Linked DNA regions of Homo sapiens: all the other regions are reported to be linked to region 1. Evidence: microRNA targets listed by miRTarBase, many of them from high-throughput screens and not tested one by one. Region 1 holds a microRNA gene; each other region holds the end of a gene's coding sequence.
Evidence for each region. The annotated mature microRNA hsa-miR-7854-3p reads UGAGGUGACCGCAGAUGGGAA and lies in region 1 at 1,571-1,591, opposite strand. An mRNA with a match to its seed (bases 2 to 7 or 8) in the 3' UTR can be bound and repressed. Matches are read on the target gene's strand: a 7mer-m8 pairs with bases 2 to 8, a 7mer-A1 pairs with bases 2 to 7 and ends in A, and an 8mer does both.

Region 1 (5,177 bases):
TTTTTCTGACTAGCTCCACTTAGAGAAAGAACGTACAACAGCTGTTTAAAAAAAAAAAAAAAAAAAGCATTCCAGTGCTATACCATGAGCAGAAGTGACAGGAAAGAAGCACAGGGAAGCATCATGAGACACAGCCCACGAGAAGGTTAAATACACTGGAATTTTATGCATGTGAGATTCTCAGACAGCATTTGGCTGTGTGACCTTGGGCAGGTTGCTTGACCTCTCTGGTGCCTCAGTTCCTTCATCTTTAAAAGGAGAGGGCTCAATTTTAAAAAAATTATGGGCCACGTGGTGGCTCACACCTGTAATGCCAGCACTTTGGGAGGTTGAGGCAGGCAGATCACTAGGTCAGGAGATCGAGACCATCCTGGCTAACACAGTGAAACCCCGTCTCTACTAAAAGTACAAAAAATTAGCTGGGCATGGTGGCAGGTGCCTGGAGTCCCAGCTACTCAGGAGGCTGAGGCAGGAGAATGGCATGAACCCGGGAGGCAGAGCTTAGAGTGAGCCGAGATCACGCCTCTGCACTCCAGCCTGGGAGACAGAGCAAGACTCCGTCTCAAAAAACAAACAAACAAAACACTATGAAGCTGGAATAAAACAGCACAGTGGCAGAGCAAGGACAGTATATCAGTGGTAACTAACAGAAAGCCTAAAAGGAAACTTAGCACATATTTGAAAAATTTAGTATCTGATAATAGCAATATTTTAAAGCAATGGGAAAAGGGCACACTATTGAGTGAATGATAACAGACAATCCATTAACTATTTGGAGGGAAGGAATAGCATTATTCCCTGCCTCACACCTTATACCAAAAATTTATCCTGGGTGTAGGTGCTTAGTTCTAGGTTAATTTTACAGTTCTATAGTTTTGTTTTTTTTTTTATGGGGAATGTTTGCTCAATCTTAAAATTTGGAAGAACTCTCTAAGCCACGAAGACACTAATTAAGAAGTCACTAATTAAGACACTCAACTCTGACCACAGAAAAATATATAACTTCTATATATCAATAAATACCTCAAACAAAATCAAGAGACTAGAAAAACAAAAAAAGTTGGAGAGTAATAACTGCTACATAAATGATTTGAAAAAGGATGAACAGTTTTCTATATTTCAAAAGAAACCCTTACAATCTTTTTTTAAAGACACATGCCATAATTGAAAATAAAACACACAAAGAATATAAACAACTTGCGGAGCAAATGCAAACAGTCAACAAACCCATAAAATGAGGGCAGTGAATGAGGTTTAATGGAACAAATCCTGACTGAGGGCCACTGGGCAACATTCACAATTTTAAAGAGCTCAGAGTCCACTGCTATTGGGTATGTGTGGCCTTGCTGTGTGGTCAAAAGGGTGCATTCCTGAAAGTCCTGGCTTTGAAACGCAGCCTGGCCACAGGCTGCCCGGGTGCAGGAACCAGTGTGGCCCAGCTCCAGCGTGGAGATGCTCTGACCCACAGGCAGCCGTGGTAGCCGTGAGCAGTAGCTCTCACGGGGCCCTCTCCTGCCCTGCCTGGAACCAGATGGTGGAGAGAAGAAAATGCTCATCTCTGCGCCCTTCCTTCCCATCTGCGGTCACCTCAGCTGCCCAGAAGATGCTCAAGGTGATGGAGATGGAAGGAAAGGGCAGGAGAGGTTCACTGCCTCCTTCTGACTAGTGTTCCCTGCGGCCCTGCATGGACTCCACCCCGGTCATGCTCTCAGATCTGCTAGTGCAGCCCTCTGATTGTAAAAATAAAGCACATAGGCCAGGCGCGGTGGCTCATGCCTGTAATCCCAGCACTTAGGGAGGCAGAGGCAGGTGGACTGCCTGAGCTCAGGAGTTTGTGACCAGCCTGGGCAACACGGTGAAACCCTGTCTCTACTAAAATACAAAAAATTAGCTGGGCATGGCGGCACGTGCATATAGTCCCAGCTACTCTGGAGGCTGAGACAGGAGAACTGCTTGAACCCGGGAGACGGAGGCTGCAGTGAGCCAAGATCACACCACTGAATGCCAGCCTGGGTGACAAAAAGAGACTCCGTCTCAAAAAAATAAAAATAAAAATAAAAACAATAAAGCACATAATGACAATAATATAAAAAATCATGCACATAACCTTAGCTACCATGTACTGAGTGGCTACCATGTACTTAACAGGCAAACTTTATTCCAATGGACAAAGTGAGTGCTGCAAAGTTTGACTGACTGATGATTCATTCATTCGTTCACTCACTCAAAACTATGTACTGAGCATCTAGCAGGTGCCAGGCCCTGTTCTAAATGCTGGGGATACAGTCATGGGGAAAAAACAGGCAAACCCCTGCCTTTCTAGTGGGATGGAATAATAAACAAAATAAGTAAGAAACGCGTGGTCTGTCAGATGATAACATATGCTCAGGAGAAAAAAACGTAAGTCAGGGAACGAGAAATAAAAAATTGTGGGAGTGGGTGCCAACTTTTTGGATGGATGGAATGATCAAGGACAGCCCAAGGAGGTGACTTCTGACAGGAGACAGGAGGGAAGCGAGGGAGCGTGTGGTGTGGGTGTTTAGACAACAGGCATCCCAGGCAGAGGAAGCAGTCAGGGCAAAGGCCTCGAGGCACAGCAGGCTTGGCGTGTCCAAGGAGGCAGCCCAGATCACACCATCAGTAAGGGAGGGAGGCTTTCACTTGCCATGCTGTCTGGGCAGAGAGGCGCAGGAGGCAACACGGTGTGTCCAAGGTCACACAGTTAATCATTGAGAGATCAGCCAAGCATGGCACACTGGAGTCAGGGCACAGAGCTGCATCCCAGGGAGTCACACCCCTCCACATCCCAACACTCTGATGTCACACCTCCACCTTCCTTGGAGGCTCCTGGAGGAAAGGCCCAGGTGACAGCTCTTCCCTGGCACCAGGTGGGTCTCCTGGCTTCGCCTCCCGCTGCCTCGGGACCTGGGAAAGGTTCTCCCGACTCAGCTGCTGGGCAAGCCGAGGCCTCCTGTGGTGGCGAGACTGAGCGAGGGCAACAGCGCTAGTCCCTGGGGAGGCTCAGGGCGACCCCCGGGATTCTAAAGGTACTTAGAGACTGCGAATAAGTTCAGGGATTTATCTGTTGGGCTCAATGTATTGGCCTGGCAGGAAAGGTCATTCAGGAAATTTTTCAAAATTAGTGATAGTCAATCTTCTAAAAGACAATTATATCTGTGCGTATACCTCCTGCATCAGCGTGTGGAACATACACGCACACGCAGGTGCACACACACTTCTACCTAACACACGTCCGAATGTGAACACCACTTGTTCAACTTCGACATCTAATGATGAGGTGATCCGTGGCCAGCGTGAAGATACGCAGAAAGCATGGACTCCTGAGCCCTGGGACTGCAGTCTGAAAGCAGCGGAAACACTTCGGACCTGGGCACCTTGCGCACCTCGCTTCTTTAGCTGTCCTTGGCCTCGATTTCCTTATCTGTAGAGTGGAGCTCACCAGATTGCTAGGAGAACTACAGAATAAAGCGCCCGACTTAGTGCCTGACATCCAGAAGAAGCGCCATGAAATGGAAGCTATCAAATCGCAGGACAGTTTTAGAAGTATGTGCAGTGCAATCATTTCATTTAGAAGACAAACCAAACCCATGTAAGCAAATTTATGAGCCATTTCTAAATACAAATAGCAATGGAGGTGAGATAATCAACAACTAGCCCCAACTAGTAATTTGCAACAGAAATGAATGTTTCTTAGTCAATCATCTTCTGTTTCCCCCTTCCTGGTGGTGACATGGTTTGAATCAGCCAGTCTGGGAAAAGCCATGACACACGGGTTGACCTCTTGAAAGCAGTTAACTTGGAAGGAAAAGGAATGATTCTTAAACCCAGTGAACCCAGTTCTCCAAGCAAAGGTCGGGCGGCAGGCCCAGGCTTGCCCCTCGAGGTGTGGCCCGAGCCTCCTCAAGCCATGTGAGCACGTCACAGAGATGCCTCAAGTGTCCCAACTTCCTACTTGGTCAGCACTAACCATGCGGGTAGAGACGGCCTGGTGTGAAAAACAAAACACGGGTAGGGTCGTAGAATCGAGACTGGACTGAGGGCATTGATGTCCCAAGGGCCTCCTGAACAACAGACCATAAACCAGGTGGCCTGCATATCAGCAATGTGCTTTCTTAAAGTTCTGGAGGCTGAGAGTCCTAAGTCAAGATGTCAACAGGGTTGATTTCCTCCGGAGGCTCTGAGGCAGGATCTGCTCCACACCTCTCTCAGCTTCTGGGGCTTCTGGGGCTGCCAAAATCCTTGGCATTCCTTGGCTAGCAGCTGAATCTGTCTCTGCTGTCACACGGTGCTCGTCCCTGTGTGTCTCTCTGTGTCTAAGTTTCCCTCATCTTTTACGGACACAGTCACTGGATTTGGGCCCACTCTCCTCCAGCATGACCTCCCGCATGACCTCCAGCATGATCTTAACTTGGTCGCATCTGCAAAGTCCCTATTTCCAAAGAAGGTCATGCTCACAGGTACAGAGACTACAGCGTAAACGTGCCTTTTGAAGGCTACAGTTCAACCCATAACAATGACGATCCCAGAAGACATCAGAACAAGCTCAGGCTAGCTGGTGGCTACGTTCGACAGTTCAGCAGGAGAAGGGCGGGTGGGCTGAGTACTCAGGGCTCGCTTTTCCAATTATTCTCCCTGGGACGGTAGAGAAATTTCTTTTTTATGCAGAAGAAGCTGAACTGATCGAAGATAATGTATGTAAAAGAGGGTACGTGCCTAGCACACAAATGCCACTTAGTGATGCCACCTTGGATGGATCTGGAGGAGGCTCGAAGCTCTGACACTCGGTGACATTTCCACTACCCGGTGACACAGAAGCCTCGGAGGTAGCAGCCACGCGGGCACCCAGCTAAGGGAGAGATGTGGGAGGCGGGCGGGAGAGGCTCTGCTCTGCCTTGGGAAGCGGTGAGGAAAGCTGAATAAAGGCGCAGGCTTTTGTGAGCAGAGGCAAGAGACTCGAGTGAACTGCCAGGAAAGTCAGCTGCCAGGGGTGCCAGGTGAGTCACTGACTCAGACGGGCTACACCGATCCCACAAAAGACACGTCCTCCCACCAAGAGAAATCTGTTTGACTTTAGAAAAGTACAGGTTACAGTGATACTCACTACACACCCCACCTTGCAGCGCAACAGAGGCGAGACGGGAGGAACAGGAACTGCA
Region 2 (5,000 bases), not on the chromosome of region 1:
TTCTGAAAGTAGTCAAGTATGTTTTAACATTTATCTCCTTATAATATGCAAACTGCCAAACTGGAGTTATGTTTTTAGTTGGTAATTGATATATATATATATTTTTGAGATGGAGTTTCACTCGTCGCCCAGGCTGGAGTGCAGTGGCACGATCTCGGCTCACTGCGACCTCCACCTCCTGGGTTCAAGTGATTCTCCTGCCTCCACCTCCCGAGTAGTTGGGACTACAGGCGTGTGCCACCATGCCTGGACAGTTTTGGGGTTTTTTTGTATTTTTAGTGGAGACAGGGTTTTGCCATTTTGACCAGGCTAATCTCGAACCCCTGACCTCAGGTGATCCGCCAGCCTTGGCCTCCCAAAGTGCTGGGATTACAGGCATGAGCCACCACACCCAGCAATAATTGGTATCTCTTAAATCTCATTCTAGTTTGCTAGAATCAAGATTACTAAGGAGTTGAAACAAAGGTAGAAGAATCCATACTATAATATCCCAAATTATGTTTTCAAAGCTAACTCATTCCTTTGGTTCAAAAAGAAAAAAAGTTGCCTCCTTTTAAAATCCAATATTAGTATGGCTGATGGAAATTAGGCCAAATTATAAACAAATTATAAACCTACAGTAGCAACCATAAAATTTATGCTGTACTAGGAAATGACAGAGCTATTCCTAGTTTATTATTTAGCATACAGAAGGTACTCCAAAAAATTTACCGGGGCGGGGCGTGGTGGCTCACGCCTGTAATCCCAGCACTTTGGGAAGCTGAGGTGGGTGGATTATTTGAGGTCAGGAGTTAGTGATCAGCCTGGTCAACATGGTGAAACCTCGTCTCTTCTAAAAATGTGAAAATTAGCCGGGCATGGTGGCATGAGCCTGTAATCCCAGCTACTTGGGAGGCTGAGGCAGGAGACTCTATTGAACCTGGAAGGCAGAGGTTGCAGCGAGCCAAGATCCCGCCACTGCACTCCTGCCTGGGAGACAGAGCAAAACTCTGTGGAAAAAAGAAGAAAAAAATTTATTGGGTGAATGAAAAGTGATTTTGCAAAATTAGGCATCACAGAATGTTAGAAGTCATCCAGTCCAACTTATTCACAACACCCCCTCCCCTGCAGTCCCATTTTACAGACAGGAAGCTCCAACCTGTAGTACTCACAGATGCTGCTGAGATTCATCTCCACCCACTCACTGGAAGCAATCAATTATTTTGGGGGGGGTGTGTGTGTGTGTGTGTCTGTCTGTCTAAAAGGTGTAAATGAGGAGTGACATTTCTACATTGTTTATTCTGTACTTTTCCTTGGAGTTAATGCAACACCTCCTGTCGCTTAGATTTTAAAAGGAAAAAGGAGAAATGTGTCTAGTCATAAAGGGGTTGCCGTTAGGAAGTCAGACTTCAGACTGTGCGTCTAAGAGTAGAATCCACTTCTCAAGAGACTGGGAATGTAAAATGACCACTCAGGTTAGAATTTCCAACTGACAGCCAGGAGGAAAACTTACTCTAAAGTTTTTTTTGCCTAGTTTAAATTGCATTTTAAATCACTGTTTAAGCTATTACAGTATTACTGTAAAAAGTTTCAAAGTAATTTTTAGTCATTACCTACACTGAAATTTGAAAGTGAAGTCAACAGCATGCTTTATTCTAACTGCTGTTAAAACTCAAAACTATTTTTTTTAACAAATTACAATATTCCTCTTAGATTTTCTTCTGGACACCTATACTTCTTCCTACTGTGTCCAGTATTCTCCAGCACATGTACCTTTGTGTTTCTCTGCCCATGTACATACCCCTGAAAGTTCAACAAAAAAAGCTATAAAATAGCAGAGAGAACCCAAAATATTTCTTATACTGCCAAGTTCCCTTTAAACCTTGGGCACTTGCTCTACTACATGGTTGTATTAATGCTCATAACTAAGCTTTCGATGAATTAGACCAATGTGTTCTATGTTCTAAATGATATTTAGATATCTGAATCCTTCTGTTATAGCCAACAATAAAAAAAGTTATTAAAAATGTTGAAAAGTATAAAATAGTAATTATAAATTAGCAAATACCCAATTTAAAAAAGCAGTTTTCCTTATACAGTACAAGCAACAGTAATTTGAATATTATTCACTTTCAGCCACCATTTGCCCTAGATGTACTTTAAAGTTTTTAAGCTTGTGTTTTTGGAGTGAAAATGTATATGGATACTTATTCTAATAATGTAATTCAGGTATCAAAAAATACATATGCATGTTAAAATGTGATGACAGCTCATATTATAGCAACTCATAACAGGTAAGTATTATTTCCAGAATAACATTAAGTCACTTTTGTAGCTCTAAGTCAATGCTGCACAAATGGACACTTAAGATTAAGGCATCATTCTGCTCTGGAGTAGTGCTTCTGTGAATCCCAGGAACTGTACAAAGGCTTTCCGTTTTAAAAAATATATCTTCTGTTATACTTCAGTTATTTCATTCCACTGATCATTTTCTTGCAAATGAAAATTGAAAATACCAGTCTATAATGTTTTCATACACCTACAAAAAAAGAAACAAATTATTGGTTAAAACTTGATTTTTTATTTCTGAAAATATTTACTAAATGGTTCTGTGGGCTAAGGTACAAAGCTACTAATATAACAAGATGGAAAATGAATTCCTTAACACTACTAATATTATAACAATAAAGATTTTTGTAGCAGTAAATGAGTGGGTATTACTGTCTTCCCCAGAAGCAATCAAAAGAGTATTTTAAAAGGAAGAATCTTACAGTACTCCCAGACTGCTAACTTGGACATCATCTGAGAAGACATCTGGTCCACCTACACCTGTCCTAAGATTGGCGCAAGATGTAGAAAACTTCCCACAGCAACTGTTAAAGGAACTGCAGCTGAGGATTCTCAACCACCACAAGCATCAGCAATTATTTCTGCCCACATTAAGAAGAAATGTGGACCTCAGACTGAGGGCTTTTCTGGGGACCAAGTACTACTCCACAGCTCCAGCTCTTGGTGGCATGGACCTGGCTTACAATCACCGTATGCGGGACACAGCTCCTCTTCTGACTGCAGCGCACTCGGCCCGACGTGACCTCCACCCCTAGTGCCTGCGATCTGACTGCCCGACATGACCTCCACCCCTAGTGCCTGCGATCTGACTCTGCCCGACGTGACCTCCACCCCTAGTGCCTGCGATCTGACTCTGCCCGACGTGACCTCCACCCCTAGTGCCTGCGATCTGACTCTGCCCGACGTGACCTCCACCCCTAGTGCCTGTGATCTGACTCTGCCCGACGTGACCTCCACCCCTAGTGCCTGTGATCTGACTCTGCCCGACGTGACCTCCACCCCTAGTGCCTGCGATCTGACTCTGCCCGACGTGACCTCCACCCCTAGTGCCTGCGATCTGACTCTGCCCGACATGACCTCCACCCCTAGTGCCTGCGATCTGACTGCCCGACGTGACCTCCACCCCTAGTGCCTGTGATCTGACTCTGCCCGACGTGACCTCCACCCCTAGTGCCTGTGATCTGACTCTGCCCGACGTGACCTCCACCCCTAGTGCCTGTGATCTGACTCCGTCCTGGGTCTTAGGCTCTGGCTGCAGCCCTGCCCGCAGGCTCCAGGTCCTCTGCAAGGACCTAACTGCTGAGGACAAGCCCACAAGTGAGGAAACAGATGCTCCTCTAGCTGACACTAAAGATAAGATGCCTCTAGAAAAACAAACTCCTGTTATACAGGAACAGGATGATAAATGCGATAAGCTCCATGTTTGTGGTAATTTCCTACTTAGCAATTTTCTCTTGCTGTGTCTTTTACAAACCATATAACATAGATAAACCTCTTATTTCTTTCTTAGAGCCTTTAATTTTGGTCATTTTTCTCTGGGTCGAATTTCCTCAATAGTGGACAAAAGTCACCTTTTTTTCTTTTTTCTTTTTTTGAGACAGGGCCTTGCTCTGTTACCCAGGCTGGAGTGCAGCTTGTGCCATCTTGGCTCATTGCAGCCTCGACCTCCTGGGCTCAAGTGATCCTCCCACTTCAGCCTCCCACGTAACTGGGACTATACAGGTGTGCATCAACACAAACCTGGCTAATTTTTTATTTTTTGTCGAGATGAGGTCTCACTATACTAATTTAAGTATCTGACCCAGGCTGGTCTCTCACTCCTGGACTTAAGTGATCCTCCCACCTTGAACTCCCAAAGTGCTGGAATTAGAGGTGTGAGCCACCTTGCCTGCCCACCTTTTTTTCTTTAATTAATAAGGTACTGCCTTCTGAAAAGGCCAGTGGTCCACATACTAGTCCTAAACTATTTTTATTAGTTTCTTCATTAATTTACCAACAAATAATTACTAAGATTATTCTATAAGGAATAAGGAAAATGAGATTTGGGCAGATGTTACATTCTAGTCTTTCCTGTACTGCCTAATTTTGCTGATATAATTAAAAAGACTAAAAAAATACAACTGCAAATTGTTTAAAGATTATGAAATATGCAAATAAGCTGCATTTATTCAAGGATTACCTTTATACTGTCTTACCTTGCTCTTATTCAAATGGTTAGTTATGAACAAGTGGTACTCAATTTTCTATTGCCACTGTTACATGGTTATTTGTCCCTGTAAGCATATAATTATATATGACATGACAAAAAAAAAAAAAAAAAGAAGTATTAAGTTTCTGGCTAAATGGTAAAATGACAGCAAAAATGACTATCATGTAAATACAAAATAGGCTTATGGTGTCAACCATTTGTCTTCTTATAGAACCTAGAAGTAAGTAAAGAGCTAACATTAGCAGTCAAAAGTTTGATTTTATGTTTATCTTGTGGAAATACCTATTGGCTTTAAAGATGTTAAACAGCAATAATTAAGAAGTTCACAAAATGAACTTTTCCCTAGATTGTTATTTTTTAGAGACGGGCCTTAATAGTATTGCCTAGGCTGGCCTTAAACTTTGGAATTTTTCCTTGACCTTATACAAAAGATGTAATGATCCCAATGAAGATCCTAAAGATA
Region 3 (5,000 bases), not on the chromosome of region 1:
TGAATGTCCGTGCTTCCCCCAAATTCTTATGTTAAAATCTAATCCCAAGGTGGTGGTATTAGCAAGTGGGGCCTTTGGGAAGTGATTAGGTAATGAGAGCAGAGTCCTCATGAATGGGATTAGTGCCCTTAGAAATGAGGCCTGAGACAGCTGCCTTGTTTCTTCCACCATATGAGGACATAGATAGAAGGTACCATCTATGAAACAGAAAACCAGCCCTCACCAGACCCTGAATCTGCCAGTGCCTTGATCTCGGATTTCCCACTCTCCAGAACTGTGAGAAATAAATTTCTATTGTTTGTAAGCTACTCAGTTCATGGTATTTTGTTACAGCAGCCCTAAAAGCCTAAGACAACAGGGTCTTTCCCTCTTTTTCTTCTAAAAACTTTTTAGTCCTTAGGTTTGTTGCCTCATGATCAAGCATCACAATACTATCAGTGTTCAAAGAAGGAAGAGGGAGATAGGTAGAGGGAAAAGACAGTCTATATAGGAGGAAAAACTTTTCCAAAAATCCTTTCTGAGTTCCATCCCAGCAGACATATCATTTTATTTCATTAGTTACAGGGTAGCTAATGAACTAACTGCAGGGAAGTGAGGGAAAGTGTCTTGTGTTCCTCAATTCTATAGCAAGAGGCAGGCAAGAAGGAGGCAGGAGGCAGGAGGGCAAGAGGAAGTTGAGGCTGTTCAAGCCTGAGGACCTCAATCCTTTTGCTGTTACCTCTTTCGGAAAACCTTCTAAGTGTTTATAATCTTTTATATTACCTTGAGGCATTTCTTCGGTGAAATAAACTGGTTTAAGTCTTCTCATATTTCATGAATTTTCCGTTCTCACCGCGTGCCTTGAATACTCAGCATCATCATCATCTTCATCATTAGTAAACTTACAGAGTAAGTTTAATTAATGCAGTCCTTAGTGGTTCTGAATTTCTGAAGTTATTTTTCTCTGTTTTATTTTTGACACTCCTCTCCTTAAAGTACTGAGTGGCATATTTGGAGGGGACAGTGGATCACATATTTGCTCAGAAACCACTGATAGTAGCTTACTAAATTCTTACTGATATGTTGATGTCCTTTCATTGCACATGTAAGTATAAGCAAAGTCTAGGGGGAAGAAAATTAAAACAAAAAAACTACTTTGAGAAAAACCATGTTTGAGGACAAATTCCATCTCTCAGAAAATGTTTCATTTAATTACATCAAGAGAATAAAGATGTAAAACAGCTAATGAATTGGGGGGAAAAGATGTAAAACATATATTTATTGAAGCATACTAGGTTTTAAATTGCTCTCTAGATTGTAATGTATTATTTAGAACAATCTCCCAATGCTTATTATATTATGTACCTGAAGGTCCTGAAAAGAAGTGTTTTTTATTAGATTATGTAGATTAAATGACTTTATGTGGAACACTATATTGTATGTTTTTAATCTGTGGTTAGTAGCTTAAAAAGAAACTTCACTTTACAAACTCTTTTTATTGTATAGGCAGTCTGTGTTAATGCTGTGCTGAAGAAGGTAAAGAACATCTTCCAGGAAGAAGAATCCATAAGGCAAAACAGAGAGGAGAGTGAAAATTGTAGAAAAGCCTTTTCTGAGCCTGTGCTTTCGGAGCCTATGTTTGCTGAAGGTGAAATCAAAGCAAAACCTTATAGGTCATTGCCGGAGAAGCCAGACATTTCAGATTACCCCAAGCTTCTTGCTAATAAGCAGAGTAATAACATCCAAGTTTTACATTCTGTGTTTGACCAATCAGCTGAAATGAATGAGCAAATCTGAATACAGGTATCACTGAACAGAACTTAAGAGTTATCTATTTAATGGCACATTTCATCTGACAAAACTCAGAGTCTAGTTTACATATTCTGAATTGCTCTGCTTTCTTAAAAAAAAGAGAAGGGGGCTACTATTAAAATGTCATTTTCTAGTATTTACATGATAGAGTAAATAAAATGAATATTGATGTGGAATATATGTACTGACTACATACTTTTAATGAACAAGAAAATCCATCCTCTGGTAGGTTAGACTTTACACTGTGGTTTATAATATAAGCATATTTATAATACATTAATGTTTTTATTAAAGACTTGTTTTGAGTGTCTAATTCTTTACTTGGGAGGAAAAAAAGCCCCATCAAGATGGTGCATATCAAAATAAAAGAATATTTATTTTTTATATGCAGACTGGAGAGTTTGAGTCTGCCTATTATTATTTTGTAAATCACTTGCAAAGTTATGAAGGATTTGCAATTCACAGATGTCATAAATTTATAAAACAAAATATTACTTACCAATGTGATGAGAAGATTTCTGTATATGAAGACAGTACATGATATGATTTTTATTTCTAGATTTAGAGATACAAATTTAGAATGAAAAATCAAGTGCACACTACTCATTATTGCCAGTGGCTCCTATGAGAAAATATTTCTGTAATTATTCCTGCAAACCAGGGCTAGTTTTTGCCTGAAGAAAGTACTTTGATTTCTTCTGTACACTTTATATTCTGGACATGTGTTAAGACCTGACTGGGCATTGAAGGATTATCACATGATAGAATAGACTGGGATGTACCTTCCTGAGAGATAGTACATTTTCTGTACTTAGTAAGTAGCTGCTACCACAAACAGTATCTATAAAAAGCCCAAGTCTGGTTCGTTGGTTGTCTGAGAAATGAGGACCAAGTGCTACTCATGCTATCCAAACTCCAACAGAAAAGGAAGTGTAATAATATGTAGTAAAGGTAAGTAAGCAGAGTCTTTACTATACGGACCTTACTCATTTACTATTTTTATAATAACCAAGAGAAAGAGTCCAGGTCGGCTCCTTAGAATGTTAAGTATTAGATTTAGATTCTTAATTCTATTCCTTTAAAAATACTACTGTGCTTTGAGACTAGGTTCCAATCTTGACAGTTCTTCTCACTCTGAATTCATCATCTACTCATTTTAGCTATTTCTGGTCCCACATAGTGGTGATTTTTGCATGAGCACTGACCATGCAAAAATCACCACTATGTGCTGCTGATTTTTGCATGGTGGGTGCTTGGGGTGTTATTTTAAATACATTACAACTGGTACGGTATGACCATCATTGCAACTGAATGGTACTGACCATAAATAACTGACATGATAAAACCAGGGTGAACCAACTGAACATCAACCTTGCTCGGGAACTCCAAGGAACAAAACCCTAGATCTCCTCTCTATAATATTTATAGGAGACACTTAGTTGTGCCTACATTCACAAAGTTCTAAAACGTTTTTAAAAATCTTTATTTGAAAATTTCATATAGGCATTCAAAGAACATTGGCTCACTGAATAGGAGACTTTACATCTCTCATGGCTGGGCAGCAGCTGTGTCTGGCTTCCTTACTTCAAGATCTGCCTTGATCACAGATCACTTAACAGTGGTTAAGTTTCTTATTTTCAAGTTCAGCAGGTAAACCTATCTCATTTTTGGAGGCATTTTTTAAGTATAAAAAGTCTGTTATTTAGGAAGGTTGCACAGTTCAGAGGTGAACATTTCAATGTATTTAAACTTTCCTAAAAATGTAAAAATAACAATCAAATAGGAGAGGTAGCAAATCCACAGAGGTATAAATAAAACAAGAATGGAAGAATGCTGATAACTGTTAAAGCTGAGTGATGGAAGTTCATTATATAGTCTGTTTACTTTGTATATACTAAAACTTTTCCAGAATTAAGTCTGCTACATCAAACAGGGATTTTTTCCTATTTTAAAAATTAAATTTTTTAAATTAAAAAATTTTTTCTTACTAATCCTTAATTTTTACCTATTATTTGTTTACTCCAAATTTATTTTTATCCTTCTTAAACAGAACATCCCAAACCTATAACCTTCAGGTTTCTAATTAATCCAGAAGATTCGATAAAATGTATTCTATTGATCCTGATGATAATCCTTACATCATACTAAGTATGTGTGCTCTTAAACCTCTCAAATGTATGTGAATTTTAAACAGTTGTGCCTATGTTGAAAAATTTCATCACCTTTAAAACTGAAGCAGAGTTATTCTAAAAATGTTTTCAAGCATACACAACATTTTTCATTTCTATATATTTTTTATCAGGAAGAACTCTTAATTACTTTGAAGTCTCCAGTGGCATAAAAATCAGAGTCACACTTAAAAGGTTCATTAGAAAGAGTCACATAAATATTTCCGTTGTCTACTGTCACTGTGTGAATCCTTTGCTTTATTCCTTTGGAGCACCACTTGGGTTTTGCTGATGGATCTTTAGGGTTTATAGACTGGTACAGACCTTCTCCTGTTGCCAAAGTAATTTTGTATTTATGCCAGGGGCAAACTATACACGGTCGTCCATCAAAATCCTGGGGAAGAGAATAACTCATTTAATATTCTGACATGTCAAATGTTCTTGATAGACTCTGAAGAGTCTGCTGCAGAAGAACCAGGTTAAAAAAACAGGTTAGCTTTTCTTTTTTTCCTCCTATGTACAAATTATTCAGCATAAAGCAGATCCTAATCTGAGAAGAGTCATCAAGCTCTTTTACAGTTGATTAGAAAGCCAGTTAGAGCTCTATCAGAAGACTGACATGCTCAGGCAACTAAACCATGTGACTGCAGCTGTGCTGTTATCTATTAGATGTTAATGTCGCCTCCTTGACAGAAATGGGGCAAGGACTTCAAGTGCTTCTATAGGAATTTTCACTAGCTTCTAGAAGAACTGTAAGGTTCAGATATAAATTCAAAAGGAGTTACTAAAGGCATGAGTGCATATGATAATAGAAGAGCAATTTGTGATCCAAAGTAGTTAATTCTCAACTTTTTAACTGTCTTGGTGAAGTGCTTCTCAAACTTTAAAAAACATAGGAAGCACCTGGATCTTGTTTCAATGCATGTCTCTCTGTTTAAATGTAGTAGGTCTAAGGGGTTGGGGTGACAAGATTCTGCATGTCTAAGAAGCTCCCATGTGACACCAAAGTTGCTGGTCTATGGACAACAGTTTGAGGAGCAA
Region 4 (5,000 bases), not on the chromosome of region 1:
TCACTGGTGGCTCTGGCCCAGAGTCTTTCAGGAGGTTGCAGTCAAGACTTAGACTGGGGCTGCCATTATCTGAAGGTTTGACTGGGGCTGGAGGACTCGCTTCATAATGGCTTGTTCACATGGCTGTGGGCAGATGCAGCCACAATTCCTTGCCATGTGGACTGGTATCTCTCTATAAATCAGATAATCTTTCTTTGACAAACATTATTTCATACCCTCTTATCTCCATTCTAAATGATCTTCAACAGGTAGTGTCTCCTAACCTTTTACTTAGTTCTCTCTACCACCCAGCCTAGCCAGTATGTTAATGAGTTAGCATCTGTAAAGCACAAATAAAGAGCTACTATTTAGAGGAGTCCTTTGTAAATCAGATAATTATTTTGTATTATGAATAATTACAAATTACACCCTAATTGATCTGTATAGTAAATTAAGGTTTTTGCATGGGAGATTCCTTAAGAGGCTTCAGTATGAGCAAGTTCTGAGGGATCTTGGAGGTTCCTTTGTCTTGTTTTGACTTAAGAATCTTTTTTTAGAGTAATCTTGAGCACTCCTGAAAGAAGCTAACTATGGTATAGAAAAGGATAACCACCACGTAGCTGAAGGCTAAGATTCAGGTCCGAACTCTCGAACTAACTAGCTGTAACAAGCTGTGTAACCCTGAGTAAGTTACTCTGCCTCTCTGGGCCTATGGCTTCATCCATAAAAACAGAGGCGATGGGCTAGAATCACTAGTCCCTTCCAAGTCTAATAATCTGTCTTTCTAAATGGAATTACCTGGTCCCAATAGGAATGGTCTCATCTTAAACTAGGTTGAGCTATATGTTTCTGCTGGTCTTTCACATTGGTAATTTTCATAAACAGCGTAAACAATTATGACACACCCTGCGGCAGTCTCTAATTACAGTGTTCTTCCTTTCAGATCCAGTCTATTCAAGGCATTGAGAATGTACCTGAAGAGCTCCTGGATAAAAATTATTCACTGTGTGATTTGTTTTTAAAAACTTGCTTCATGCCCTACAGAGGTGCCAGCTATTTCTGTTGATACTATGTATAATTTATTAATCTGGAGAATGTTTAAAATTTTATATAATTTAAAGGTAACAGATATTATTGTACATAGTTGTATTTTGTAGTTTCTTCTGTAAATATGTATTTTTCATAATGTTTAATATTAAGCTTTATATAATACTATTTTTCCACACTAAAGTGTTCATGACTTGTTCTACATAAAACTAATTCAACCTGTATGACAGGACTACTGGTAAAATGCATATGGAGGTGGTGGCAGAGACAATCCTTCAGGCCATGTTTTCTACCTGTTTTGATATTCACTGGACAGGAAAAAGGGCAGGGCTAGAGAGAGCAAATACTATGGCTAGATTTGCTGCATTGCTGTCCCATGAATCTCGAGAGCCAACAGACATGTCCTAACTTGCTATTAGGACAAATGTGACAGTCAAAAAAAGGATTAGAGGGAGGGAGAAAAAAGAATTAAGCAGTACCAAAGCTGAACTAGATGCTTGTGTCTGAACTAGTTGCTCTCTCTCTCCTTTCTCCTTCCAGGGATTCAAGCCAAAGTGGTCAGCTCAGGGATCATGTAACTTGCAGTGCAAGCCCAGGATGGTAGGATGCAGGGTTGAGGGTTCTGATAGAGAATGATTCCAAACAGAAGTGATGAATTCCTTTTGTTAATAAGATGCCAGCTATACCCAGACTGGAAACATAACATGCAAAGCACTATCTACAGTGATTAGAGATCCTTTCATTGCATTCATGGTGTGGAGTGTGAACATCCACACCCATACTGTAATGTATTTATACACACTAGTTTCTGTCTCATTTTCAGTGGTCTCCATTCCTAGAAAAGTCACAATTATCCATTCCTACTTGATTTCCCATTAAAAGAATATTATGGTAGCAGATTGTGCCCCTCATTAAAAGGCTTAATGCCAACATTTTCATAGAAATGACTACAAACATCATATATAGTAAATTTAAAAACAATAGCAAAAACAAAAACAGTGGTCTTCAGTAAAATTTTCAAAACTTCTTTTAGTAAATCAATGAAGTCAAAATGTCAAGTAATCACCCAAAGTTGCATTTAATAACAAAAGGCACTACATACTGTACCAAGTTTATCTTCAATATTTGTGCCTTACTTACTTTGACTATAACAAATTCCAATGAGTCAGAAAGTATTTCCTTCATCAAGGTCCAGTTCCGACAGCATTCCTGGGAAAAATTTGAAAGGAGTTTGTACGGAATCTTCATAGATACCTGAGAAGATGAGCTGGAGATGTTTGCCTTTTTCACACTACAAATTTTTCTGTAATAAACTTGGGAATTAGAGGTCAAGTTTGTTGATGGCATAGCTTCCTTTGCATAAAGAGTATATTTCTTTTCAAAGTATATATTTTTGTAACCTACCATAAAGTCCGTAAGTGAATACAACGAATGTAATTGACATAATAATTGAAAATCATTGACTATACCTAAAATAGTTCTTTATAATTAAATAACTCTACACCCAATCTGGAAATTTTTCCAAGGTTATTTGAAGTTTACAAAAATGTGAAGCATAATCATAAGCTTCAAAGATTCACAGTTTCATTGTGCTCAATGCTCTTGTGAAATGACAGTCTTAAGCTCTGATTCTGTATCAAGGAACTAAGTGAATCTTCTGGAAATGAAAAGGAACAACATATGTGTAAGTGCAGTAGATGTACCACCAGCGAGAAAATAGAGGTCAGAGATCTACAACGTGTGGCATCCATTAGAAATCACCTTTCCTACATTGAAAAGAAAAAAGAGAAAAAGCAGAATTTTACACTAATGTTGCTTGATGCAAAGCACATTAATGCTTGGAAGGATACATTCATTTTCGACTTTTCATTCACTCAGAAAACTTCTAGTAAGTATCTGCAACCTGCTAGGCACTGTTCCAGAATCTACACATTTCTACTCACATAAAGAGAATCCTCATAAAGTTAGGATTGTTGTTACTACCTTCAATTGAGCTTAAAAGACAGCCTCATCAAGGGAATGGGATAACTGAGCCAGTCTAGGACAGTGGTCACCTTCCACAGGCCACACACTGGAAAGTGCTAATGCTACTTTAATAGCAAACCTCTGGATCTAGGAGAGAGAGCAATTAATTGCACAAACCAGGAGTTAAAACCATAAAAAAAACCTATGCATCTGTAATAGTAAATAACACTCACGTACTCTGGCAACATCTAGGGTAGTATCAGAATTATGTAAATGGACATGACAGGGAAAAATCGTAGGTTTTTTTAGTCTAATCCAACCCAGGAAATGTTTATTCCTACCCTACACCTAATTTTAAACCTTCTTAGCAACAAATATTTCACTATTCGCTCCTACTCCTGGGAAGACTAAATATATAATTGACTTATTTATTAAATTTAGGAGAAAAAAAAAGTTTTCCTTGACATTCAGCTCTATTGGATTTATTTCCATTTAATTGCATCATGTGTTATGTCTTGGTAAACACTCCATTTCCTGTCTTGGTGGGCATCCTGTCTGTGTACCTGTGCAGTACACTTTAATCATCAAGACTTCAAAGTGCTTTTGAGCTATCAAATCTTGGGAGAGTCCCATCTAGCATCTTAATAATTATTTTTCCAAGTTCGTTATAATTAACTCCTTTAACCTCATCTCATTAAATCAATTTTGTATTGTCATTCTGTTGTTCTCTGGAAAGCAGCCAATTGTTCAGCTCTTGAATCAGAATTTTCAAAGACTCACCTCTCTTACCTGGGCTTGCACATATTTGTCCTAAGTAATTCTCTATCCCTTAAACCTCTGAGTCCCTCTGTTTTATTACTTGCCCCACTCCTCCTACTTGAATATGTTTGTTTTCCCAGTTGAATGTGATTTTTATCTACTGTTCATATTATCTTTTATACCCATGAGTATAATTTCATAGTCCTTTCAGGTTCCACATCATCAAAGAGATGACCATAATTTCACTTTTTTTTGAAATGAAGTCTTGCTCTGTTGCCCAGGCTGGAGTGCAGTGGCACAATCTCAGCTCACTACAACCTCCGCCTCCCAGGTTCAAGCGATTCTGCCTTAGCCTCCCAAGTAGCTGGAATTACAGGTGCCTGCCACCATGTCTGGCTAATTTTTGTGTTTTTAGTAGAGATGGGGTTTCACCATGTTGGCCAGGCTGGTCTTGAACTCGTGACCTTAGGTGATCCACCCACCTCAACCTCCCAAAGTGCTAGGATTACAAGAGTGAGCCACCGCACCTGGCCAATTCACTTTTAAATACTAAAAGGCACACAGCACACAGACATTTTCGGGGCAGTTTTCTTTGGGAGGGTCTTTGATAAATTTTGTAATCACCTCTCGGAAGAAAGCCCAAAATGACATGTGAAAATAATATTAAACCATTTACCAGATGTCCAGCAATATAAAAATAGACCTCACATGCTACCCTTCACATGCTGATTCTCTTGCCTTGCTGTTTAAGGATCCAGTTTCTTATGTTAAACATTTTCCTTACCTTTTGCAATAATATTATTGGCCATATACTAAATTCTCATTCACTTAGCTTTCTAAGAATTCTTTGAGGTTGGAATCCTGAAATCATAAAGCTACCAGATCTGCACAACAGCAGTGGTAGTATCTGAGCCCAAACTCTGAGACGCTCTAGAGTTTTAGTTTACAAACATGAGCCAGACCAAACCTGACCTGGTGAAAATCAATAGGTAATAAACTGCTTGTATATGATAGCAGTTCAAGGGCTTTCTGGGTTCCATTTCACTGAGGAAATGAAAATATAACTGATTAGCCAAGACAGAGTGGCAATAAGGAATAACTGATCCTCCTCCAAGTTGCAGTGAGCAAGCCCTCAAGCCTACCTCATTCCTGAAGAGTTGAAGGAGAAAATGCCGTGCTAATTTTCTGCCCTGCTATTTTTAACCTGAAATTTAGAATTACATCAGGTATTCAAAGAATGTTCCCTATCA

Region 2: the mRNA of ZDHHC20 is a reported target of hsa-miR-7854-3p. Seed matches in the 3' UTR shown: 7mer-A1 at 762-768.
Region 3: the mRNA of RFESD is a reported target of hsa-miR-7854-3p. Seed matches in the 3' UTR shown: 7mer-m8 at 3,515-3,521.
Region 4: miRTarBase lists PTPRB as a target of hsa-miR-7854-3p. Seed matches in the 3' UTR shown: 7mer-m8 at 3,768-3,774, 7mer-A1 at 4,230-4,236 and 7mer-m8 at 4,371-4,377.

Annotation. Positions count from the first base shown.
Region 1 is chr16:81,530,356-81,535,532 of GRCh38, reverse strand. It overlaps MIR7854 (microRNA 7854), which reads right to left and starts at 1,631; the gene lies at 1,567-1,631. All of the region lies in intron 1 of CMIP (c-Maf inducing protein), which reads right to left. RefSeq lists enhancers at 2,252-2,751, 2,752-3,253.
Region 2 is chr13:21,374,138-21,379,137 of GRCh38, forward strand. It overlaps ZDHHC20 (zDHHC palmitoyltransferase 20), which reads right to left. Exons shown (of 13, transcript NM_001330059.2): 12 at 4,524-4,601; 13 at 1-2,518. The coding sequence ends at 4,564. LOC124903130 (nitric oxide synthase-like) reads left to right here and starts at 2,552. Exons shown (of 1, transcript XM_047430813.1): 1 at 2,552-4,445. The coding sequence starts at 3,107. The coding sequence ends at 3,457. It also overlaps the pseudogene MIPEPP3. RefSeq lists an enhancer at 2,807-3,323.
Region 3 is chr5:95,655,399-95,660,398 of GRCh38, reverse strand. It overlaps RFESD (Rieske Fe-S domain containing), which reads right to left. Exons shown (of 6, transcript NM_001131066.2): 6 at 2,317-4,353. The coding sequence ends at 4,090. SPATA9 (spermatogenesis associated 9) reads left to right here. Exons shown (of 5, transcript NM_031952.4): 5 at 1,486-2,084. The coding sequence ends at 1,776. Among named protein-coding and RNA genes, the nearest start is that of RFESD, 11 kb to the right of the region's middle.
Region 4 is chr12:70,517,434-70,522,433 of GRCh38, reverse strand. It overlaps PTPRB (protein tyrosine phosphatase receptor type B), which reads left to right. Exons shown (of 34, transcript NM_001109754.4): 34 at 923-5,000. The coding sequence ends at 945. It overlaps PTPRB-AS1 (PTPRB antisense RNA 1), which reads right to left. Exons shown (of 9, transcript XR_001749196.2): 4 at 1-5,000. Among named protein-coding and RNA genes, the nearest start is that of PTPRB-AS1, 52 kb to the right of the region's middle.